Homo sapiens: one gene and its partners. The protein of the gene in region 1 interacts with the protein of each later gene in a pairwise test. Each region holds a gene or a part of one and is shown in the gene's direction. Other genes may lie near its edges.

Region 1 (3,438 bases):
GGGTGGGCCTGGTGGCTGTTCAGAAAGTCCCAGGCCCCTGAGAGAGGAGGGCTCTATTGTGAAGCCATTTAGCTCTTCCCAACACTCATCACTGCTGCATTTATCTAGGCCATATCTAACACATACCACTGGGGATCCTAGGGCTAGGCACTGCGTGGAGCCAAAGGGAACGTGGCCTCACACCCAAGGAGATCCAAGTCTGATGCAGAAGGCCCCGCCTCATTCTTAGGTCTGACTAGAAGACCCTCCCCCCGCACAAAGAAGATGACCCCCACCTTTAAGGATCCCTTCTCTTGGAGAACAAGAATTTATTGTTTTCTTTTCTTCTCTATCCCAAGCCCATCTCTGATGATGAAGCCAGTGATGGGGAAGAAACCCAGGTTAGTGCAGCTGATCTGGAAGCCCTCATCAGTGGCCACTACCCCACCTCCCTTGAGGGAGATTGTGAGCCTAGCCCAGCCCCTGCTGTCCTGGATAAGTGGGTCTGTGCACAGCCCTCAAGCCAGAAGGCGACCAATCACAACCTCCATATCACAGAGAAGCTGGAAGTTCTGGCCAAAGCCTACAGTGTTCAGGGAGACAAGTGGAGGGCCCTGGGCTATGCCAAGGCCATCAATGCCCTCAAGAGCTTCCATAAGCCTGTCACCTCGTACCAGGTACCCAGGGGCTAGAGTGGGAGGAGGGGTCTTTACTGGCCAGTGGTTAGTAACCCCAGTGGGGTTCAGGTACAGTGGTGAAGATTTTATGGGGTCTAGGACTTGCACAAAAGAAAAAAAAGGAAAATTGATGAAAGCAGATTGGCAAAATCTTGATAGTTGTTGAAGCTGGGAGATGTACGATACTTGGGGGTTATATGGATCTCTCTACTTTTGAATTTTTTAACATAATTAAAAGTTTTTTATTTTTAATTTTGTTTATTTATTTATTTATTCATTTATTTAGCAGAGATGGTGTTTTGCCGTGTTACCCAGGCTGGTCTTGAACTCCTGGGCTCAAGCAATCTACCCTCGGCTCAGCCCTGCAAAGTGCTGGGATTACAGCCATGAGCCCTTGTGTCCCGCCTAAAAAGTTGTTTAAAAGAAGTTTGGACTCTGAAGCCTAACAGACCAGGGTTTGAACTCTGGTTCCTGTCATTCACTAACTGTGTGACTCCAGACAAGTTACTTAAACTCTCAAAGCATCAGTTTTCTCATTAGTAAAAAGGGGCTACTATTAAATGAAATGGTCCCTGTAGCACAGGACCTGACATAGAGTAAGCCCTCAGTAAATGTTAGCTCTTGCTGTTGGAATGATGATGATGGTGGTGGTGGTGGTGGTGACTAATATCATCATTATTTTCTACTTCTTACTGCTGGTCTCCATCCTTCTGGGAACCAAAAGACAAATTACCCAGCCCTCATTCTATCCAAAATTCTCATCTTCAACTACACCCAAGCTTTACACAGCCACACAGTTGCCAAGCAGCCAGGCTGGCTTTTATGTCAGCATCTGCTAGAGGAGTCAGCTTCCTTTCCACTGGCTCTACCTCTTCCATCTCCTCACTCTTCTTTCTTGCCTCTGCCTCCTCCTCCTCTAGGAGGCCTGCAGTATCCCTGGGATTGGGAAGCGGATGGCTGAGAAAATCATAGAGATCCTGGAGAGCGGGCATTTGCGGAAGCTGGACCATATCAGTGAGAGCGTGCCTGTCTTGGAGCTCTTCTCCAACATCTGGGGAGCTGGGACCAAGACTGCCCAGATGTGGTACCAACAGGTCACACCCTGGCTCAGCCCCTACTTCAGTTTTGCTGTGTCTCAGAGTTCCTGCCCCAGATGTGTGCTGTGCTCTGCCCCAGATCCCTATGCTGTGCTCTGATGGGAATGCACCCACAGTATAGGGAGACCATTTTTCAAGCGGACCAGGACTCATATAGACCCCTCAGCTCCCAGAACAGCCTTGTTGCTTGGTATCCTTAAGAAGGAGTAGACAGGGACAAGAAGTATGTTTCTCAGTCTCCCCAGACCAGCAAGGGCCTTCCTGAGGAGGCCAGGCCTTGACACTGCGTGTCTAGAGCAGTGGTTCCCAATCCTGGCTCTGCCCACAATCACCAGGGCAGCTTGGTAAGGATGAAGATGACAAGGTCCATCCTCAGACTGATGGAATCATGAACGAGCATCTTAGGATAGTGGCAGGGCTGGATGATGGCATGTTTCCCATGCTCCCTGCCTTTCCCAAGTCCTGCTGAGTACAGACCCAACTGCCCCTAGGTTGGTCCTGCCTCTAGCCTTCCCTAGAGTCTGGGGCGATGGAAGCCTTGTGTGTGTGCTCACTCATGCCTCTTCATTGGTCCTGGATCCTTACAGCTTCCCATCTGGCTGCTTTTTTCCAGGGCTTCCGAAGTCTGGAAGACATCCGCAGCCAGGCCTCCCTGACAACCCAGCAGGCCATCGGCCTGAAGCATTACAGTGACTTCCTGGAACGTATGCCCAGGGAGGAGGCTACAGAGATTGAGCAGACAGTAAGCAGGTGTCCCAGAGCAGTGAGGACAGCCAGGTCCTGCTGTAAGGTCTTGGGTCAAAGCCAAGAACCCCCAACTCCTCAGCTGGGGAGGACAGCAGGCAGAGGAAACTGTGGATCACCAGAGGTTGAGCACAGAGCAAGTTAAGACTGAAGCTCCAGGCCCAGAGGTGGGGGTGGGGAGCTTTGGGAGGAAAGAGCTGTAACACCAGCCCTCTAGATTCTGGTTCTCAGTAGTCAGGCCTATTAGGATTGGATTCAATTCTAGACTGATTGGTGTTAGGATTGGGTTAATGTTAGGGTTAGATTACAGGTGAATTATATCTGTACTGAGGTTAGGGTGGGTCAGGGCAGAGGGTTTTAATATTTTATTTTATCTTTTTTTTTTATTTCACCAACTTCTTTGAGAACCTGATGAAAACTGTGGACTGTTTTCTCCCCAAAATGCACAAATGTGCAAAGGTTTATGTCTTTTTCCAGATGTATGGACCTTCTAAAGCCCACGCAAGGCTGGCTCAGGATTTGGGGTAGAGTTGGTGTAAAAGCACAGTGTCAGTAGGATTTGGTTTGGGGCTGGAAGAAAGCTCCATCAAGATGGAGTTAAGACCAGGCACAGTGGCTTATGCCTTTAATCCCAGCACATTGGGAGAACAGGGTGGACAGATCATCTGAGCTCAGGAGCTCGAGACCAGCCTGGCCAACGTGGTGAAACCCTGTCTCTATAAAACATACAAAAATTTCCAGCCTGGCAAACATGGCGAAACCCCGTCTCTACTAAAAATACAAAAAAGTTAGGCGGGTGCCGTGGCTCATGCCTATAATCCCAGTTTCTTGGGAGGCTGAGGTGGGAGATTTGCTTGAACCTGGGAGGCGGAGGTTGCAGCGAGCCAAGATTGTGCCACTGCACTCTAGCCTGGGCAACAGAGCAAGACTCTGTCTGAAAA
Region 2 (3,500 bases), on another chromosome or scaffold:
ATAGACTTCTAAAAGTGCCTCTTTTTTTTCTTGTTTCTTAATAATCTTCTAAGAATATGATTGCTGCTATTCCTGTGTGTACATTGGAAGAATTTGAAACTGATACACTGTTTGTAAATTGCCATGCTCTTGATTCATACCCTGAATCACCTTTCTCCTTCTCTGAGCTGTTACCAATCAAGATTACGTTGAAAGCCCTTCCAAATTGCAGCATGGCCAAAGTGTTGACTTGTCTATCATACTAAAACAGCAGCAAACCTTACACTAATACATCCTTGAACTTGGACATTCATTCAGCAATCTTGACTGGGCTCCAACCTTGGAGTGAGTGATGATGCCTGTTACCGAAGTGGGGTACAAAGAATATGCTGACAAGCCTGCCAAATGAGAACTCAGTTGTGGTGGGAGAGAAATTTTATTCCTGTTAGATCTGTGCTGTAATACAGTTCATGTTAAGTGTTCTAGAAGCACAGAGAGAAGGGATGGCAGTGCAGGGAAAGCCTGGCAATATATTTGCTAGGTTTTTCAAAATTTTTTTGAATTGCTACATCCAGAATTTAATATTTTGTCTGCTTTTGTGTAGTTCCCATTCCAGTTATTCAATTGGCATAATTATTTGATTATAATTTAGTTTCAGGTGAGGTGGTAAAGAAGAGAATACTTGTTCGGTTTGAAAAAGCAGCTTGAGGGGAGGAAGAGCATTAGGACAAATAACTAATGCATGCGGGGCTTAAAACCTAGATGACGGATTGATAGGTGCAGCAAACCTGCACGTTCTGCACATGTATCCCAAAACTTAAAAAAAAAAAAAGCAGCTTGAATATTGTATCCTTCCCCCTCTCCTGTACTAAAGATAGTAGGGTGTAATGTTAAATGTGCTAGACTACCAGGGTTTGAATTTTGGCTTTGTCATGTTCCAGCTCTGTATCCTAGGTCAAGAAAACTCCAGGCTTCAGTTTCCTTATCTGTAATGGGGGAAAGTATTTGGATCATTGTAAGATTGAATAAGTTCGTACACATAAAATGCTTAGAATTGTTCCAAGTAATTGCTACATGCTTAATAAATTATTTTATTGTTATTAAAATTAGGTAGAATCTCATTTGCTAAACATTGGGTTGTAAAGACAATGTGTGCACATTGTTATAAAAATGTGAAGAAAAGGCAGTGCGTGATGGCTCACACCTGTAATCCCAGCATTTTGGAGGCCAAGGTGGGAGGATCACGAGGTCAGGAATTCGAGACCAGTCTGGCCAACATGGTGAAACCCCATCTCTACTAAAAATACAAAAATTAGCAGGTGCGGTGGCATGCGCCTGTAGTCCCAGCTACTCGGGAGGTCAAGGCAGGAGAATTGCTTGAACCCAGGAAGCAGAGGTTGCAGTGAGCTGAGATCACACCCCACTGCACTCCAGCCTGGGCAACAGAGCAAGACTCCGTCTCAAAAAAAAAAAAAAAAGTGAAGACAAAATAATTTTGATATAAATAGCTGTACTCAGTTCCATATTGGGTCCTATGAGAAATGTAAAAATCAAAAGATAATAGAACTTGAAATTCTTTAAAGGTCATCTAGTTTGACTTCATAATTGAAACCCAAAGAAATTATGACCGGTTCAAGGTTTCTCAGTACATAACAGAAGTGTTGCTGAGAACCATGGCCTCTGATGCTACTCAGTCCAGCGCTCTCTCAGTACCCTGTGCAGCTTCCCTGAAGTGACAGCGCCCTGGAAAACTAACAGTTTAATTGGCAGCCAAGTCCAAAACAGGTGAAAACATTAGCAATAAAAAGTCAGTATATAATGGAATATCAGATGGTGTACATAGATTAAGTCCCTACCGTATTTAACTTTGTGAGCTGCTCTCTTGAAGCGGAAATGCACCTTCTTAGTAATTTCATTCATTGAAGGTTGAAAGATGAAGAGCATTTGTTTTTGAAGAGGGTGTTAATAAAGTCAATTTCCCTCTTTCCTCCTACCAAGGTTGGATTGTTCATTAAGCCAGGGGGAGAGTCCACTTTTGCCAGGTCTGCCAGTACTCCATGGCTTTGCCCTTGATGATAGTTGGGGAAAAGTCTGGCCTCTGTATTTCTGTTCCCTGTCTTCCTGATGGGCCAGATTCCCACAGACATTCCCTCAGGTATGAAGACTGCATTACCCTTGCTCATGGGTATGCGTACATATGTGGAACAGGTGCTAGAAGTGTACCTGATTGGTGGGATTTGTCTAAGTCGAGATTTCCACTCAAGGACAGGGCTGCTACTTTTTGGGATTGAGCTAAGAGTACTTTCACACATTATCTCATTTAATTGTGCTTGAATACTCTGCTGCTAAAAATTTTACAGAATAATACATGCTCCTATAACATTCAAGCTATATAAAGATATGCTATGGAAGAGGTGAAAGCCCTGCTCTTCTACCCCTCCCTGTACCCAAATTATTCCATCCCAAGAAGTGTCATTTGTGACATTTTGTAACTTTTCCAGAACTTTCCCCTAAATATATATAGGTAGTTTGAGTTAACAAAAAATGGTGATCATACTGTTCTAATTAACCTGTAACTTCTTTTTTTGTGCTATACATGCATATGTGCTTTAATCTTTAATAATCCCAGAATAGCCTGGCTGTACCATATGTGTTGGTTTTTAACAGTTTGTCCATGATGGATATTAAGATTGTCTCTAGTTTTTTGCCATTTCAAATAATACTGCAATTCAACAATGTCCTCAATATATATTATGCTTGCTCTCTTATATGCCTAGAAGTATGATTGTTTAGTGGAAAGATTTACACATTTCAAATATTTGTATACTGTTGGAATTGCCCTTTAAAACAACAAACTACTGATCTCTGGTAAAGTGCTATTTCCCTTACATAATTGACTATCTTAAAAAACTGTAGGACATTTGTATAATTTTCTAACCAGTTTTTGCCCAACAAGACTGCTTGCTGTTTTATTTTATGCATTTTTTATCACTCATGCCATTCTACCATTGGTTTTGGTGGTTCAGAATGGTGCTGTTTATCCCCATTTCCTGTGCTTATCATCACCATAATTGCCTTTTAAAAACATAAATTTTTTTTCTTAATATGAAAAACACTTTCATTTATAGAAAATTTGGAAGACACAATAAAATAAAAGTTATATTTTTGTGCATGAAAGTACATAAAGAAAGGAATGAAAGTCCTGCCCTTGCCTTTTCCCTATTTTTTAAGTTGGTTTTTCCTTGCAATTTTTTCTGTCCTTATACCAACTTTTGTGTTTATAGAGCAGAATTTATGCCTGTACATATCTACTGATATTTGTTTTTTTTTCCTGAGGACTAAATAAGCTCATATTAGATATGGTTTTGTAACTTTTTTACATTACTTAACAAAATATCATGGAAGTCTTTCCAAGAGTAAAATAGCTAATAATAGCTAGCATTTATTGAGCACTTACCATGTACCCATGACCTTTTTTTAAGCCCTCTACATGCATAAGTTTATTTAATAAAATTATTAAA
Region 3 (3,500 bases), on another chromosome or scaffold:
TTTCTTTGGTGCCGTCACTGTTCCCTGATTGCTCAGGAGCCTGTGGCAATATGTTGGAATGTGCACTTTGAAGAAGCAGGGACTTAATCCAGTATTTACAGACTGGCTTTGTCAGGGAACGCCCTTCACCAGTCAGCCTGTTCACAGATTCTGGGCAGGCCATGTGGTGTGGTTCAAGGGTGGTCAGAGCCAGTATCCAGAGAGGTGACCTGAGGCCTGGCTCCATGAGGGCTGAACTGGCACTGGAATAGGCCTTGTACTTGGGTCTGCAGATGTCAGCCAGGTGCTGTGATGGGTCTCATCCTTGGGTCCACAGGGAAGGGCCTGGAGCCTGAGTTCATGGGGACTGACCTGGCACTAGGACAGATCTGGAAGCTGAATCTATGGAGGTGGGTCAGGATCCTGGGTCTGTAGTGCTAGCCCGAAGGCACAAGCTAAGACTGATATCTTAGCTTATCATGCCTTTATCATGCCCTTATCTCTATGTGTTTCCAGACTTCTGTTTCCTGCACTTTCTGGTTCTTTATTCCATAGGGACATGTTGGATGATTTCTGTCAGTCAGGCACCGTGCTAATGGGATAATTATAAGAGGCCCTGCCCTCGTGGAACCTTTTCTCTGGGATAGTATTAAGACACACAGATCAAAATAACAGTCAGAAATTCCTGATAGGAACCATGAAGAAATTAAGTGATGAGTGAGACAGAGACGAGGTTGGTGGGGCCTCTCGGGGATGGTGATTTTGGCCAGTCTCCAAAGCTGGACAGGGATAGTTGTGCAGAGAGCCAGAAATGGTGCTCCTGAGCAGCCTCCCTAGGAATGACAGTCCCAGGGTGCAGGCGCTGGGGGATACCGAGCAGAGACGGGGCCACCATAGTGAGTGGACAGCAAACAGGTCAGGTGGACCAGCATGGGCAGATCACATGTAGATGAGGTTGGATTTTATTTTGTTATTTTATTTTATTGTTAAAAAAAAAAAAAAGTAGACTGGGCGTGGCATGGTGGCTCACGCCTGTAATCCCAGCACTTTGGGAAGCCGAGGAGGGTGGATCACCTGAGGTCAGGAGTTGGAGACCAGCCTGGCCAATATGATGATACACCGTGTCAACTAAGAATACAAAAAATTAGCTGGGCGTGGTGGTGGGTGCCTGTAATCCCAGCTACTCAGGAGGCTGAGGCAGGAGAATCGCTTGAACCTGGGAGGTGGAGGTTGCAGTGAGCCAAGGTCGCGCCATTGCCCTCCAGCCTGGGTGACAAGAGTGAAACTCTGTCTCCAAAAAAAATTTTAAAAAAGATAAAATATTTCTTTTCTTTTCTTTTCTTTTTTTTTTTTTTTTTTGAGACAGAGTCTTGCTCTGTCGCCCAGGCTGGAGTTCAGTGGCACAGTCTCAGCTCACTGCAAGCTCTGCCTCCCGGGTTCACGCCATTCTCCTGCCTCAGCCTCCCGAGTAGCTAGGATTACAGGTGCCTGCCACCACGCCCGGCTAATTTTTTGTATTTTTAGTAGAGATGGGGTTTCACTGTGTTAGCCAGGATGGTCTCGATCTCCTGACCTCGTGATTCGTCCGCCTTGGCCTCCCTAAGTACTGGGATTACAGGCGTGAGCCACCGTGCCTGGCCAAAAAAAGATAAAATATTTCAAATATTTATATTGATTACATATTGAAATGTAGTGTTTTGGATATTTTTAGGCTAAAAAATAGTTAAAATTAATTTGACCTCATTCTTTGTACTATTTTAATGTGGCTTTCATAGAATTTGAATTTTGCATGTGATTTGTATTATATTTCTGTCAGCAGTGCCAGTCAAAGGTATGTAATAGTGTAATAGATGCAGAATTGATGACAAGACCAAGCCAAGAAGAGCAGATTTCTCTGTCTGGATTCCACTGAGGGCCAAAAGAGAAATTTGCCAGCCATTGTCAGCCTCTGGGAATTCTGTGGTGACTCATTCATTAACTTTTCTCTCCCTTCCCAGGATCTCATAGATCAGAATATACTGGAGCCTGTAACCCGTGCACAGAGGGTGTGGATTACACCATTGCTTCCAACAATTTGCCTTCTTGCCTGCTATGTACAGTTTGTAAATCAGGTACAGAATGTGTGGACCCCTTGCCCAGAGGTGGAGTGCATAGTGATGAGGTGGGAGCTGTAGCCGATGTGAGTCGGGGAACCAAGTTCTAGCCCAACTTGGTAGTCTTCATCATGCCCTGTTCCATGATTATGACTAGTTGATTAAAAAAAAAAAATAGAAATCTTTTTTTTCTTTTCTTTTATTTATTTATTTTTTTGAAGACAGTTTCACTCTTGTTGCTGAGGCTTGAGGGCAATGGCATGATCTTGGCTCACTGCAACCTCTGCCTCCCAGGTTTAGTGATTCTTCTACCTCAGCCTCCTAAGTAGCTGGGATCACAGGCATGCACCACCACACCCAGCTAATTTTTTTTTTTTTTTTTTTTTTTTGGGAGACGGAGTCTCGTTCTGTTGTCCAGGCTGGAGTGCAGTGGCGCGATCTCGGCTCACTGCAAGCTCCGCCTCCTGAGTTCACGCCATTCTCCTGCCTCAGCCTCCTGAGTAGCTATGACTACAGGTGCCCGCCACCACACCCGGCTAATTTTTTTTTGTATTTTTAGTAGAGACGGGGTTTCACCGTGTTAGCCAGGATGGTCTCGATCTCCTGACCTCGTGATCCACCCACCTCGGCCTCCCAAAGTACTGGGCTTACAGGCATGAGCCACCGTGCCCAGCCAGTTTTTTGTGTTTTTAGTAGAGACAGGGTTTCTCCATGTTGGCCAGGCTGGTCTCGAACTCCCGACCTCAGGTGATCCGCTTGCCTCAGCCTCCCAGAGTGCTGTGATTACAGGTGTGAGCCACTGCGCCTGGCCAAAATCTTTTCTGTAATGCATGCCACCAGGCTGGGAAATCTTCTAAACTATTGCCTGCAGCCGGGTGGGGGCATCATTACAGCATAGAGGAGGCCTGGCCCAGTGGACAGGGCTGGGTTCCAGCAGTGGCACAGGTCTGCTCCGTGGCCAGGCTCTCTCCTCCCGGGCTCTGTGCTCCTGAAAGGTGCTTGGCCTCACTTAGCCTTCAGGTTCTCAGGCCCCTTCCTCTTCCCCAGCAAGGCCGGGGCTTTTGGGAAGTCCCCCAAGGGCCCCTCTCCTTGCAGAGTCTCTCAGGTGATGCCCTTGCGCCTCCCTTGCTACTGACCATGCCATCTAAACAATGCTTTTCCCCTAACCTGATATAATAAATAATGAATCACGGTCCTTTTGTATTGGTCCTTACATACAGGGTGGGTGTCCTGTATGAGTCCCGAGTGTGCTGGTGCAGAAACCAGCCCTCAGAACTCCTTGGTGAACTGAGTTGAGCTGAGTGGGAGGGGATGGGGTGGTGAGGAAGGGTGGACAGACATGTCAGGGAAACACATTCTCAAAACCTTATGCTCTGTTGTCAGGTCAAACAAATAAAAGTTCCTGTACCACGACCAGAGACACCGTGT
Region 4 (3,500 bases), on another chromosome or scaffold:
CTACCCTGATTCAAATAAATAAGAATGTGTATCACAGAGTGAATCATTTGCCTGAAGCCATAAACCCAATAGAACAATGTTTTCTTTACAAATAAATAAGCCAATAATGAAAATACAGATAAGTCATTTGAGTCTCACCATGTTTTTATTTACTAATATCAAGGACAGAAGTGTTTGTAGCTTGTGATAATTACTCTTTATTTTCTGTTAAAATGAGTTTGAAGGGTTTGTGGCTTTTTTTTGCAGTTTTCTGTATACTTTTAAAACTTTTCTTTACGTATTTCAAACTAAGTTATTTTCAGATACCAGATTTGGAAATAATAGCATTTACTAACATTTGAACAGTTATTTTACAAACGTAAGTTCTGTAAGTTTACTCTTTTTGATAAGGGAGTTTTCTCCAAAAGAGTTTAAGGTTGCCATTTTTTTTCCAGGTCAGTTGCACTATCTAAGACAGTTTTAATATATTCATACTATTTTTCAAGTGGAACACATTCAAAATAATTTATCCACCAAAAAAGGAAGCAAGAGTACCTATAATTTTAGGCTGGAAGACTTTGAAATGCTAAGAAACATGGTTTTAAAATATTTTCTGGAGAAAGAAAAGGATTTTTAAGGTTTTGGTGATCTTTGATGTATATAAATAGTCTATTTGCCTGACAACTAATAGACAGTAATAACATTATAGATAGCATTAACTTACCAGTAGCCAAGAAATAATAGGGATTGGGAAAGTCTCTGTACTTTTATTTGGTCTTTTATTATGTGAAATATGCATATATCATACTATTTCTTTATATAAAACTATACTTAGGCCAGGTGAGGTGGCTCATACCTGTAATCCAGAACTTTGCAAGGCTAAGATGGGTGGATCACCTGAAGTCAGGAGTTCAAGGCCAGCCTGGCCAAAATGGTGAGACCCCTTTTCTTCTAAAAATGTAAAAATTAGCTAGGCATGGTGGTGGATGCCTGTAATCCCAGCTACTTGGGAGGCTGAGGCAGGAGAATCGCTTGAGCCTGGGAGATGGAGGTTGCAGTGAGCCTAGATCACGCCATTGCCCTCCAGCCTGGGCAACAAGAGCAAAACTTGGTCTCAGACAAACAAACAAAAAAACTATGCTTAAAGAAATAGTAATGTTTTTCAAATAGAGAATAGAACCTTTCTTCTACTTTTTTTTTTTTTTTTTTTTTTAAAGCAGAGTGTTACTCCGTCACCCAGGCTGGAGTGCTGTGGCGCGATCTCAGCTCACTGCAGCCTTCACCTCTGGGGTTCAAGCGATTCTCCTGCCTCAGCCTCCTGAGTAGCTGGGATTACAGGCACCTGCCACCACGCCTGACTAATTTGTGTATTTTTAGTAGAGATGGGGTTTCACCATGTTGGCCTGGCTGGTCTCGAACTCCTGACCTCAAGTGATCCACCTCAGCCTCCCAAAGTGCTGGGATTACAGGCATGAGCCACCACACCTGGCTCTTCTACCTTTTTGAAGAGCACTTTACCTTCTCTACATTAATACCACAATGTGAAGAGTTACTATCCTCAATGTTTAACAAAACTAGAAATTTATGACAGGGAACTAGACTGAATACATCCATCCTCCTCTCTGACTTCTCTGAATCCTGAATCAGAATTTCTCTCTAGTCCAAGAAGAATATGAGTAGTTATTAATACCATTCAGCAATATTCCTGATTTTCTTCTGCTCATATGGTGAAATTACACTTCCTTGCCCTCTTACGCATCACTGTGTGATGTTCATTGATCAGTGAAATGTAAGCAGAAGTGAAGTGTTAGCATCCAGGTAGAAGTTAATAAGAGAAGGTTTATGATTTTCAAAGTAAATTCTTCTCCTTGCTGCAGTGAGGTGGTCCAGATGGTTGGAGGCTCGGTAGGCTGTGTCCCTGTTTGTGGTCAGTGGGGAACAGAGTCTCTCTTGTCTTCCCTAATCCCTGAGATGTTGCATGATGCAAAAAATAAATCTTTGTTGTGTTAAGCCATTGAGATTATAGAGTTGTTTTGACACAGAATTAAGTGATATAAATATTAGGCACTACCTAGTAATAATGCTAGAGGTTTATTTGTATATATTCATTATATAGTGACTGGATATTTAGAAAATTGTCAAGACTATATTTTTAAATGATCACTTAGTGTACTTCTTAACCTTTATGTAAATAGATAGAACTCAGCTTGTTGTAGAATATGTGTTAAAAATTAAGGAGAAAGCCTTCTAGGGGCAAGGCTGAGGATAGATATGTTCAGTCCAGTTTTTTTGGGAGAACCACAACACAGAATGGCTTTTTTTTTTTTAAGAGCCAGGAGGAAGGGGGGCCCTGCAGGCAATGACTCCATCAACCTTTTATATATTTATTCATTTAATGAATATGTATTAGGTGGCAGCTATATCAGATGTTATTTGTTGCATAGGAGTTTACCATAACAAATATTCCTTCTGCTAAAGGATCTGACTTTTATTCATAGGTTCAGGAAGAGTGTGTATGTTGTCCTGGGTTACAATGTTATATGTATTTCTTAAGGTAGGTTGCTGCAAAAAGTATTTGAAAATGCTTGTTTTAGCATGTATAGTAAAAGTCAATGACAAAATAGGACTTGTAAAATTAAATGATAGAGAAATAGGCTGGGCACGGTGGCTCACACCTGTAATCCCAGCACTTTGGGAGGCTGAGGCAGTCAGATCACTTTAGGCCAGGAGTTTTGAGACCGGCCTGACCAGCATGGCGAAACCCCATCTCTACCAAAATATACAAAAAAATCAGCTGGGCATAGTGGCACACACCTGTAGTCCCAGCCACTTGGGAGGCTGGGGCACGAGGATCACTTGAACCCGGAAGGTGGAGATTGCAATGAGCAGAGATCACGCTACTGCACACCAGCCTGGGCAACATAGCAAGACTCTGTCTCAAAAAAAAAGTAAAAGAGATTTAAATAATTTTTTTAAACTGTGGCAAAATATATGTATAACATAAAATTTGCCGTTTTAACCATTTCTAAGTTTAGGGACATTAAGTACATTCATATTGTTGTGCAGCCTTTACCACCATAATTTTTTTTATGTGTATTTAGATTTTTTTTTTTTTTTTTTGAGATAGAGTCTTGCTCTGTCATCCAGATTGGAGTGCAGTGGTGTGATCTTGGCTCACTGCAACCTCCACCTCCCGGGTTCAAGCAATTCTCGTCCCTCAGCCTCCTGAGTGGCTGGGATTATGGGCGCCTGACGCCACACCTGGCTAATTTTTGTATTTTTAGTAGAGACGGGATTTCACCATGTTGACTGGGCTGGTCTTGAACTCCTGGCCTTAAGTGATCTGTCCGCCTCAGCCTCCCAAACTGCTGGGATTACAGGCGTGGGCCAAAGCACCTGGCCAAAAAATAATAAATTTTAAAGTGTGTTTCTACTTGGAAGGCTGAAGGATTCTTCTGTTTTTTAAGAGAGCATTAACAAAGCAATTATTTTGGTATTAAAAATGGGGAAAATTTGAATTT
Region 5 (3,500 bases), on another chromosome or scaffold:
AAATACACATCTTATGTATAAAATTGACACTTTATTAACACATTAACCTATTTATGCCAGAGGTTGCAAATTTTTTTTGTGTGTGAAAAATCAGACCTTGGCCATGACCTTGAGCAGTAGGATATATATGATTCCCACAAGCTTAGCGTTCCAATAATGGAACACTAGGCATAAATGGGTTTTAATGAAGATTTTATTTTCAGTTTTCAGGACATCAATGACAAATCTATGGTGGAAGGCAAGAGGTCCATAAATCCTTTCTGGATGGCTTTTTTACTTGTGTTGTTTCAAGAGTTTTAGTTAAATAGGAAGTAGGCAAGCGTAACTACTGTGTGTCTTTTTTATTTCTTGCTGAAACACAGGAGTGTTTTATGGCATATTCACTTACAAAATTATTAGTAATGGTTCTACATGACAATTTGTAATCATAAGAGATGGTTCAGATGTATAACAGAATGGGAAAGCCAGCAGATTATTAACACGTTGTGAATTGCGAATTATCTGCTGTTGTACAGCACATTAGCAAATTATCATCAGACAATGACCTCTTCTTCATGTAGATGTAGATAATTTAGGAAGCAGTGGAATCTTTTTTGGGGAGATCTGGTATTCTTTTTAATAACCTTGGAAAAGACATGTTCATATGTCACTTCTCTACACTAACTGAGATGTGTTAAATAAACTGGGAAAAGAGTTTGAAAATAAAATTTTCAAGCAACTTGAGGATTATCTATACACAAACAGTTATTTAAATAGAAGTTACAAGTAGAGAACATGTTGCTATAATGTTCTCCAGATACCATTTATTAATTGGTATGAACATGAGACTAGTAGTTTTCCTGTCAGTATTAATGTTTCATGTTACCACTTAGGTTAGGAACTTTGCTATCATCTTGGACTCTTCTGAGTTCATTATCCTTCCCATGTAGTTATCACGAGGCAAGTTTTACCTCTGCAATGGTCCTTTAATTTCTTTCTTTAAATTCCCACTGCGGCTACCCTAGTCCAAGACCTCATTCTTCCTTACCTGTACTATTAAACTCTTTTCTGAGTTCTCTCTTCTCTTCTGAGCCATCCTTCATTGATTGGCAATATTATCTTTCTAAAACCCTTCCCTTCCTAAAATGCTTCCCAGCCCTTCCGTCTTCCCAGCCTGTCAGTGATGCCCCGTCTCAGTTCTTAGATATTCAGAGACTCTCCCCTTTACATGACCCCCTCTTAGGCTTGTTTTGCCGCCTTCTGTCTTTCCTCCCACTTCTCCAGGTTGACCGCCTTCCCTGAAGGAACTCACCGTTACTCCCATGCTTTGCTCATGCTCTTCCCTCACAATACTTTTAAAATCTTTTTTTGACTGATTGAAACCTTTCGCCAACTAAATCAACATCAGTCTCCATTTTTGGCTACATGCCCGAGTGAGTTGCCCTTCCATAGCAGTTACACAAGTTTTGTATTACTTGTTTTTTATTTGTGCATTTGCTCATGTCATAGAAATACGGAAGATTGTGTATTCATTTTTTACATCTTCCTCAGCATTAACCTACAACATTTTAGGGAGTAGGAACTGTTGAACTATTTGTTGAGTAAAGAGTATATATTTCAAACACAGTTACGTTTTCTCTAACTTGATGAGGTCATATCACCAACCATTTTATCCCTTCAATGGAAACCATGTTATGTAGGCTATTGCTGATAATACATGGGTCGCTACCTGCTGAAAAAAAATATAATATTTCATGATATAAGCCTGCCCGTCTTTTTCTGTCTTCGCTCCATCTTGACCTTAAGATGTTCTTCAACCCATTTTATTTAAGCAAAGTACATGACTGTTAGACCTGCTAAAATAATATGTCACTGAAATCTGGCATTAAAAAATTTAATTGGGTATTTGGAGCTCCATGTATTGATTATAGTTTTTTCTATTTGAAATGAATAACTGGCATCCTTTGAATATTAAAAGCTGTTTCCTTTTGACATTTAATTAACCCTGTTTAAAATGCGAGATATAAAGTGGTGGTTTGTCAGTGAACTAGACTTTTTCTTTTAGGCTCTTGAGGACTTTGAAGACCTTTGTGACAGAGTTTTTTCCGATGAAGACAGTGAACTTGATAACTAGACATGTTTTTAAATAAAATCATGTCAGAACTGTAAGTAGTGCATATTTAATATTAAAAACTCAGGATTGATGTAGCACTGGAATATTTTATTTGCAGAAATGTGTATTACAGTTACTTAAATTTTTTTTTGAAACAGCTTTTGGAAAAGTTGGCACTTACCCAGTTGTCTCTTCAACCTCTGTTATTCTGATGACTGAAGAAAGAACTTGAACCTATGTTATATGATACAAGCACAACTTGAGCTACAGTAAACTACATGACAGTGTTTTGATAATTGTTGTATAAATCGGTATAGCTCCTCTGTCACTCGTCTGTTAAATGCCAGACCTCGTTTCTATGATCTGTTGAATGAATCCTAGACACTTCTGTGAGAAAGCAGGGATTGCATAGTTATGTACACGGTCAATTAAATTTTAACATTAAAGATAATTTAGATTTCGATTTGGCCTCTGTGGATTTGTATCAGTTCCAAAAATGTAGAAAGCACAGGCATAGAAAAGTACATTTTTCTCTAATAAAAGAAGACAATATCTGCTGGGTGTGGTGGCTCACGCCTGTAATCCCAGCACTTTGGGAGGCCGAGGGGAGTGGATCACTTGAGGTCAGGAGTTTGAGACCAGCCTGGCCAACATGGTGAAACCCCATCTCTGCTAAAAATACCAAAATTACCCGGGCGTGGTGGCACGCACGTGTAGTTCCAGCTACTCAGGAAGCTGAGGCAGGAGGATCTCTTGAACCCGGGAGTTGGAGGTTGCAGTAAGCCAAGATTGTGCCACTGCACTCCAGCCTGGGCGACAGAGCAAGACTCTTTCTCAGAAAACAAGAAGAAGAAGACAAAAGCTATCTTATCTGTGCGTTCTTTTGTATTTACTCATTAGGATAAAGAGGCAATTCCAATGAAAGTAGGACTTCAAAAAATAGATATACTCTATGGCCATATCAAAATTATTAAAAGCACCTTACTGTCTGTGTTCTTAAAAAAAATTATACTGCTGTAAATGATTAAGGCAACTGAGCAAGATATATTAATATCAGTGCTGAGCCACTGGTTTGTGGGTATGTCATTTCCACAGACATCAAAATGCTATTTAGTTTGTTTTGGTCCATCATTCAATGATACCTCCCCTTAGAATTGAATGAAAGCATTTTGTTAACATTTATGTATGCTTACAATTATTTCACATCTGTGGCAAGGTAAATTTTGTAGAGTGCTTTGTTTATCCAGTTTAATATTCGTGGATTATGTGGAAGTTTATATGGACATCTAAAAACTTGAATGATGAATTCGCCTGCCTTTCCTTTTTTTAATGTGCAGTTTTCACATGTAACAACATATAACAAACATGTAAAAAGATTTTTTGCATGTAACATGTTAAAAAGATGTAC
Region 6 (4,286 bases), on another chromosome or scaffold:
ACTAATTTTATTCATGAGGGCTTGCCTTCATGACCTAATCACCTCCCAAAGGCCACATTTCCAAATACCATCACATTGGGGATTTGGTTTCAACATGGGAATTTTAGGGGAATATAAACTGTCTATAGCATATGTATATATATGTATGATGGTTAATTTTAATGTGTCAACTTGATTGGGTCACCAGGTGTTTAGTCAGACATTATTCTGGGTGTGTGTGTGTGATGGTGTTTCTGGATGAGATTAACCTTTGAGTTAGTAGACTGAGTAAAACTGGTTGCCCTCCCTCATGTGAGTGGGCCTCATCCAATCGATTGAAGGTCTGAATAGAACAAAAGCTTGAATAAGAGGGAATTCTTCCTGCCTAACTGCCTTCAAGTGGGAATATGGGTTTTTTTCCTGCCTTCCAACTCAAATGGAAACATTGGCTCTCCAGGGTCTTGAGCCTGCTGGCCTTTGGACTAGAACCACACCATTGGCTCTCCTGGATCTTCCGCTTACTAACTGCAGATCTTGGGACTTTTTGGTCTTCATAATTACATGAGTCAATTCCTTATGATAAATCTGTTTCCATATATGTATACATTCTATTGGTTCTGTTTCTCTGGACAACTCTGACTATTACACTGTGTGTGTGTGTGTGTGTGTGTGCGTGCGTGCATGTGAGAGAGAGAGAGGAGAGAGAGATTATACTGTTATGCTGGTCTGTGGGCTCAGCATCAAAGTAGGAATTTTGCAACACACCCACAGTTAACACTCACTTTTTTCCTCAACACCTAGACTCTTTCAACTTCTTAACAGAGTCAGAATTTTGGAAGAAAAGAACATTAACACTAAATTGTCATTTTATAAATTATTAAACTAAAGCTTAGAGAAATAGTCAATCATAGTCCATAAGGAATGTATTGGCTGGATAGTCCCATTTCTATGCCATACCATGGCAAGTAAAAAAAAAAAATAATAATGTTTGCTTAAGGCTTATATGGGAAGTGTGTCCTGTGCTTTGATTAGAAAAGTGCCCCCAAAATGTTTTTTAACCTTGTATGGTTCATGAGCACCTCTGAGAATCTATTGAAACCTGTGAGTTCTCTTCCCGGAAGTGATTCTATAAGGACACAGACATAATTTTGCATATAATTTTAGAAACTCATTCACTTAAAAAAAAAAAAAAGGAATCTTCTTCCTGGTCTTGCCGTGACAGTCCCCAGCCCTCTCCACATGACCAGCCATCTGAGACCCATGGTAGAGCCACAAGTCTAAAACCCCTCACAGCACAGAAAGTAACTCAGAGCACGGCATGTGACCTCTCCTGGTGACACTTGAGTAGTAAGAAGTGGCAACTCAGCCACAGCAGGTCTATATTTGGACCTTCACTCATGGCAGGCCTGTTGCTATTTGTGGCTGCAGCCAGCTCATGTTACCATCCAGCTTTGGTGCCCCACTTGCAGAACTCTGGTGTAAAATAGGCAGGGGTAGCCTGTGGGGCATGCAGAGGTCACTAGGAAGGAAAGCCTGCTGAACACAGATTCAATTTTCTAGCAGAACTCCAGGTCCTCTGAGTTAAAGGAAGCATTTATGGACGCTTAGCAGGCAAGTTTTGGGGTAGTCATATTCTTCCAATGCAAATTGTATTATTAGAAACTCAATGCTGCAATATTAATGCAATATCTTTCCTGTAGGTGGGAAGAGATATCATGGTAAATTGCAGATGTTTAAATTACAATAAATAGTGTAAATGTTTTCTGTGCCTTCTTAAAGCAAGAATTCGCATTAACTGAACATGATGTTGGGACAGGATGTGAGAGGCTCTGATGAAGGCAGACAGGGGCTGGTGATTCTTATAATGTGTCTTTAGGATATCTGTAGTGCTGGGACCCATTAGTTAGAACCATTTGGTAGAACAGTTTGGAAATATAGATGTTGAATATCATCTGGCTATACTATTGTGTTGTAAATACATTTTATTTAATCTGTGTGTACATGCTGAAAAATAATAACTTCATGCATTGATTCAAATACTAAAAAACAGCATCGTAATTATTTTTCACTTGTTATGCATACAGCCTCCTCCTATAGAAAGTTTTCAGGTTCGGGCAGTGTCTGCAAAGCTGATTTGAATCATTTCATATCACTGTAACACTTTAAGGCAAGCTTTCTTTCACTGCTGTGGCTCAGGAATTGCCAAGGGCTGCATGGAAGAGCTAAAATTATAGGCAAAGTTATGTTCCTGCCCTTATGGAATCACTTCTGGGAAGAGAATTCACAGGTTTCAGTAGATTCAGTAGATATGCCCATGATCCATAAAAGGTTAATAAACAAGCCAAGTGAGGTGGCAGATTGCATGAGCCCAGGAGTTCAAGACCAGTCTGGGCAACATAGCAAGAACCTGTCTCTAAAAAAAAAAAAAAAAAAAAATTATTGGGGGACTTTTCTAAGTAATGCACAGGGATACACCTCCCATATAAGCCTTAGACAAACATCTTTTTTATTTTTTTTAACTGCTTCCCTTGGCATAGAGGAAAGGGTATCCAGCAAAGACATTCATAATGGACTATGACTAATTGCTTTACTTCTCTAAGCTTTAGTTTCACCATTTATAAAATGACAGTTTATTGTCAACTTTCCTTTCTCCCCAAATCCTGATTTTGTTAAGAAAGAGTCTAGGTGTTGAGGGGAAAAGTGACTGTTAACTGTAGGGTGTGTTGCAAAATTCCTACTTTGACACTGAGCCAGTTTGTGTTGAGACCACTTTGTGTTGTGTGTTCGAAGGGCAAGTGCCAGCTTGAAAGCATGTGTTCTTATCTGTATTTGCACTAAGTGTTTTCCAGTCTTCTGACAGTTCAACTTGGTGTTTCACATTCCAGCTTCTGGTTGAAATAATTTCTCATGATGATTTATTGGTCATACAGAATCCTGGCTATTTCCCTTTGGGTAGCACATGGGAATGTAAGCATTATTTTAGTGAACTGCTCCTCTGTCTGTAGATGGTGTGATTTAATGGAAACCTGGGTTTGAATCCAAGCTCTTCACCTGACTGGTTGTGTGTCAGGTGAAAAGCTTGGATTCAAGCACAGGGCTAAATACAGAGTAGCCCAGATACATTTTTGTAAAAGAAAATTGGCTATAAGCAAGTCCTTTATCCTCACAAGATCTCAGTTTTGCCATCCTAAAATCAGGAATTTTTTTTAAACATCCATGACCTGCTGAATAAAATCAGGAAATTGAATTAGATGCTCTCCAAGGGACCTCCATCCCTAGAATACCATATCTCTGCCTGGGCCCCCTGGGAGAGGAATGATCTCATAGCTGATGTCTGTGCGTGGTTATGAGGCTGTTCTGCTTGGTGCCTTCTTTCATCATCGGCTGTTTTCAAGGGACAAATATTCCCACAGTAGCCATGGATGATTCCACACTGCTGTGGTCACTCTCCATGAGTGACTAGGTAGAAGGCTTCTAGCCCAGGTGGGAGATACTAAGGTAGGAATCATGATAATGATAGTAAGAACAACAACAATAACAGCAGCTAACACTTACTGAGGACTTACTTTAAGCTATGTACTATGCATAAAGTACATTATGTTATTTCATCTAAATGCCAACCTTATGAGGTAGACACTGTTAATAGAGCTGTTTTATAGTCCATTAAAGTTAGGCCTAGAGAGATGATTTTCCTGAAGTCATACTTCCAGGATGTGGCAGAAACAATGCAAACACAGGACTCTCTGAATCCAGAGGGCAGTGATCTTGGGGAGCAGGGAGAGGGGACAGGAAAAGGGATATTACTTAGAGATTCAAGAGGTAGAGTCAGAATCAGCATGAATTAGTTATTAATTAGATTGGGGGTGTCAAGGATGAGCTTCTGGTCTCTGGTTTGGTGCTGGAGGGGGTGGATGTCATGCTCTCATTCATGGATAGTAGCAATGCAGTGGACTTCATGGAGGGCCATGTTGGATGAGTATGGGGTTTAAGAAGCAGTGGTGAGATAGGGAAGAGTGGGAGCTCTCAGCAGGCAGGACAGTCTGAGCCAGGGCCTAGGGTGAGTCTCACATGGAAGACCCTGAGCGCGGCCAGAAGGAACAGAGGGTTACCGCTAGGGAAGGTGGGGCTGCTTGGGGAGTATAGAGCTATGGCATGGGGTGGGGGATCCCTGGTGCCCAGGAGAGTTGGGACTTGCCAGTAATGGAGCCCTCAGAATGCACGATGTGCAGATGTACCACTTCTGCCTGAACAAAGCAACATATGCTGTATAAGCTATGCTGCTATCCTGGGCAGGGACACCCCTGAGG
Region 7 (3,500 bases), on another chromosome or scaffold:
TTGTCTTTAAGAGTTCTTCATTTCTGTCCCATTGCCTTCTGAAACTTAACATGTGAAAATTGTACCTGACAAAGGAGGACTGGGCTATCAACAGTTGACTACGCTATTGACACCATGCTCTTGGAGTTTGGTTCTCACACTAACCATTTAACTTGGCTCAAAGTATTCATTCCCAATTCCCCTTAACGTATTCTATTCACAGCCTGTCAGATATAAGCCATTTGTTGGGAGATATTACAAAATATATAAATAGTGCCAGCCTACGAGCACCAGGAAAAGCATTATAGCACTGGCTTCTTAAGTGGAGAATATTACAATCTCACGTGCATAGTGATTTTTTTTTTTTTTTTTTTGAGATAGGGAGATAAGGTGTGTTCCACTCCTGGATACCTAATTGTCAGCTCTTTGGTTTTGGGCTTAGCAATACTTACCAATGTATGCTTGCCACAGAGTTTAATACTAAGTTAATATTGCAAAGCTAAGCCTTTTAGCTTAGAATGGAAGCCATCACCTTCAAAATTCGCACTTTCAAAATCTCACAGTTTTTTGAGTGAATATTTTATAAAAATCACTCATCGGGTATTTACTGAATACCTACTATGTGCAAGGCACTCCTCTGGGAACAAAGATGTTTAAACCCTTCCTCACCAGAAAGACCTATAACCTAGTTGAGAGTATAGTCACAAAAGTAACTACCATTCAGGGAAGAAAGAATTAAGTATGGGAAGTGAACTGCAGCTAAAACATTTTCCAGGTGGGTCTATCTACTTTAAAAAATAACATGGGATCATCTGCACTATTGGGCTGAACAAGATATTTAGGATCCCTGCTCTCAATGAGCTTATCTTGTAAAATGCACAAGAAAAATTGAATTTTTAATAGTATTAATCACGAAAAAGAATACAGATAATCATTGAATTCATTGTGTTTTATTTTGCAGTTTTAGTGTTTAAGAAACTACTTATATTCCCCAAGTTATTCATTCACATTTATCTTTGTGGGAGATACTCTAGGATTCTTATTCACATGCTTCTAACTGCAGTGTTTTGGATGCCATAGTAATTTTCATTTACTCAGCTTATAATTAAGAACATACTATGCATCAAGCCTTCTTTTATGCCCTGAAAATAGAGTAACTAACATGGCTCCTGCCCTTAAAAGAAATTACTGTTTGGTGGAATATAAAGTCAAGAAAGAATTACCATGCTGTGTATGAAGTGCTAATATAGGTTTATAAAAAGTATTGTGGAACAGCAGGATAGAGTACATCTGACTTCTGGAGAGGTCAGAACAGGCAGCTTTAATGAGGTGGGGACATTTGAGGTTAGCCTTCAATAATGAGCCATGGTTCATTAGAAAATGGGAAAGAGAATTCCAGGTAGAAACAAGGACACGTACAAACACAGAGACAAGAAGGACAATGGCAAGAACGTTCTGTCAGTTGTGAGATTTTGGTGGGCCGTGGCAGAAAAAGGAAAAACAGCAGGTAGGACTCAGGTTCTGGTTTGCTGAGAAATGCTAGGCCAAGGCATTGGATTTATTGTCTGATGGAAAGCTGTGAAGGACAGAGAGAAACTTGATCCAGCTTGTGTCTTAGAAACCTTTGAGTGATGAAGTTTGGTTGTAAAACAAAGGGACTGAAGGCAGGAAGAGCAGTTAGGGGGCTTATTGCAATAGTTTAGATAAGGGATGAAAAGAACCTGAAATAGAACCAATGAAAGAAGGATGGAGAAGGAGAGAGAGAGGTTTGAGGTTTGGGAAGTCAATTAAGTATGTAAAGTTTGACTTGCCCCAAAGTGATACCTAGACTAAACTTAAATATAAGATGTAACTCAGAGGAATTATGCCAGAAAAACAAATGTTAATGAAAGGATGATTGTGAGGGAGGGACTTTAGGGGAGGCAGGTTCAGTCATGCAGATAAATCTATGAAAGGGACTTCAGGTTATTTTCAACTGAGAGCTTTGACTTTGGACTAGTAACATGTATATGTTCTGATGTATAGAGTTTATTGCCTGGAAAATGTTGACTGTGAAGGGACATTGCTTATTTGCAGTGTGCAAGAGGGAGCTGTCCATGGACATAGTTGTCCCCTAAATGGGTTTTAAAACTGTAGGTATTTTTTTTCCTTTGCCTCTGGATTAAAAATCTTCATCCACATTAAAAGAATCTTTAGGCCGGGTGCAGTGGCTCATGCCTGTAATCCTAGCACTTTGGGAGGCTGAAGCAGGTGGATCACCTGAGGTCAGGAGTTCAAGACCAGCCTGACCAACATGGTGAAACCCCCATCTCTACTAAAAATACAAAATTAGCCAGGTGTGGTGGCACATGACTGTAATCCCAGCTACTTGGGAGGCCGTGGCAGGAGAATTGCTTGAACCTGGGAGGCAGAGTTGCAGTGAGCCAAGATCGCACCATCACCCTCCAGCCTGGGAAATAAGAGCGAAACTACATCCCCAAAATAATAAATGAATAAATAAATAACCTTTAAAGTTTCATAAGGGAAAATAAACCAATGCCCCTGCCAGAGATTATTATCAACAATCATTTGCTCCGACTGGCAGTCCTTTAAAAAAAAATACGAAGAACTGAAATATGGAAAACTTTAAACCAAGTAGCTGAAAAGATTCACCTTGAGCTCCAAAGGAAAAAGTCATAGAGAAGAGATTTGTTTTGTAGAGCCTGATAGAAATGTTGTACGTGGTGGTAGGAGCTGTGGACATGGTGTATTTGCAGTGATATGGCTGAATAGAAATGACCCTGTAATGACAAAGGACAGGAACCAGGTTGGCATACCCAGTATCATGCACATGCAGTACTTAACAAATGCTACTTGTTTGTTCTATAGTACAAACTGAGCAGTATGTGAAAATAGTCTGGAGACATTGGCTGGAGTGGAGAAGGGCAGCTTGGGAGTAGATGCCCTCTTAAATCTTGCCCAACATGTAAACTGCCATAATTCTTCTCCAGGTTTCTGCACTTTAACTTGAATTTCCTAAGTGTTCTATTTTATATAAGAGTACCATATCCTTTTATAGACAACATATATAACAATCTCAACTTCTGTATAATAGCTATGAGAAGGAGGAAGGTAAAAAGAAAGGAAAGAGGCAGTGATTTATACGGGTCTGGCCAATATCAGGGCATTGGCACGCAGGAACAGCTTTAAACTAAAAGTGATAACTAGTTACCTGCAAACATGAAAAGGGAATTTTCAAAATCGAGAGGAATTATTATAAAGAAGAATAAAAAGAACCAGAACATATTTCTCCTCTGTAATATGAGCTTTCCATTTTAGGGTCGGTGTCAGCTATTTAAGCAGCTGAATTGGAGGTTTAGGTCACATGGGGAGGAAGAAAGTATAACTCTCTATAGCACTCTCAGACATATTTTTAAAGCCTTCAAATGTAAAGCTAAAAAGTAGAACTTCTTTTGCAATGAGTATTAACGTATTTTGGTCATAAGCCTCTTATGTGTATGTCATTTCTCATTACATCCCAG

The links.
Region 2: the proteins of POLL (region 1) and SSX2IP interact in binary tests that used the Homo sapiens proteins (3 or more experiments, as listed by UniProt).
Region 3: the proteins of POLL (region 1) and TNFRSF10D interact in binary tests that used the Homo sapiens proteins (3 or more experiments, as listed by UniProt).
Region 4: the proteins of POLL (region 1) and TRIM23 interact in binary tests that used the Homo sapiens proteins (3 or more experiments, as listed by UniProt).
Region 5: the proteins of POLL (region 1) and FAM9B interact in binary tests that used the Homo sapiens proteins (3 or more experiments, as listed by UniProt).
Region 6: the proteins of POLL (region 1) and FSD2 interact in binary tests that used the Homo sapiens proteins (3 or more experiments, as listed by UniProt).
Region 7: the proteins of POLL (region 1) and MAL2 interact in binary tests that used the Homo sapiens proteins (3 or more experiments, as listed by UniProt).

What each region holds. Positions count from the first base shown.
Region 1 is NC_000010.11:101,581,820-101,585,257, reverse strand, and holds part of POLL (DNA polymerase lambda), read left to right. Parts: intron 1-338; coding exon 339-656; coding exon of another isoform or gene 657-822; exon of another isoform or gene 823-908; intron 909-1,576; coding exon 1,577-1,750; intron 1,751-2,366; coding exon 2,367-2,495; intron 2,496-3,438.
Region 2 is NC_000001.11:84,680,462-84,683,961, reverse strand, and holds part of SSX2IP (afadin- and alpha-actinin-binding protein), read left to right. Parts: intron 1-1,494; exon of another isoform or gene 1,495-1,764; intron 1,765-1,977; exon of another isoform or gene 1,978-2,134; intron 2,135-3,500. UniProt on the Homo sapiens protein: Belongs to an adhesion system, which plays a role in the organization of homotypic, interneuronal and heterotypic cell-cell adherens junctions (AJs).
Region 3 is NC_000008.11:23,147,028-23,150,527, reverse strand, and holds part of TNFRSF10D (tumor necrosis factor receptor superfamily member 10D precursor), read left to right. Parts: intron 1-1,976; coding exon 1,977-2,090; intron 2,091-3,455; coding exon 3,456-3,500. UniProt on the Homo sapiens protein: Receptor for the cytotoxic ligand TRAIL. Contains a truncated death domain and hence is not capable of inducing apoptosis but protects against TRAIL-mediated apoptosis. Reports are contradictory with regards to its ability to induce the NF-kappa-B pathway.
Region 4 is NC_000005.10:65,614,334-65,617,833, reverse strand, and holds part of TRIM23 (E3 ubiquitin-protein ligase TRIM23), read left to right. Parts: intron 1-3,500.
Region 5 is NC_000023.11:9,024,128-9,027,627, reverse strand, and holds the end of FAM9B (protein FAM9B), read left to right. Parts: intron 1-2,044; coding exon 2,045-2,113; 3' UTR 2,114-2,144; intron 2,145-2,250; 3' UTR 2,251-3,396; downstream 3,397-3,500. UniProt on the Homo sapiens protein: May play a role in meiosis.
Region 6 is NC_000015.10:82,803,270-82,807,555, reverse strand, and holds the start of FSD2 (fibronectin type III and SPRY domain-containing protein 2), read left to right. Parts: upstream 1-1,486; 5' UTR 1,487-1,590; intron 1,591-4,286.
Region 7 is NC_000008.11:119,211,363-119,214,862, forward strand, and holds part of MAL2 (protein MAL2), read left to right. Parts: intron 1-3,260; exon of another isoform or gene 3,261-3,500. UniProt on the Homo sapiens protein: Member of the machinery of polarized transport. Required for the indirect transcytotic route at the step of the egress of the transcytosing cargo from perinuclear endosomes in order for it to travel to the apical surface via a raft-dependent pathway.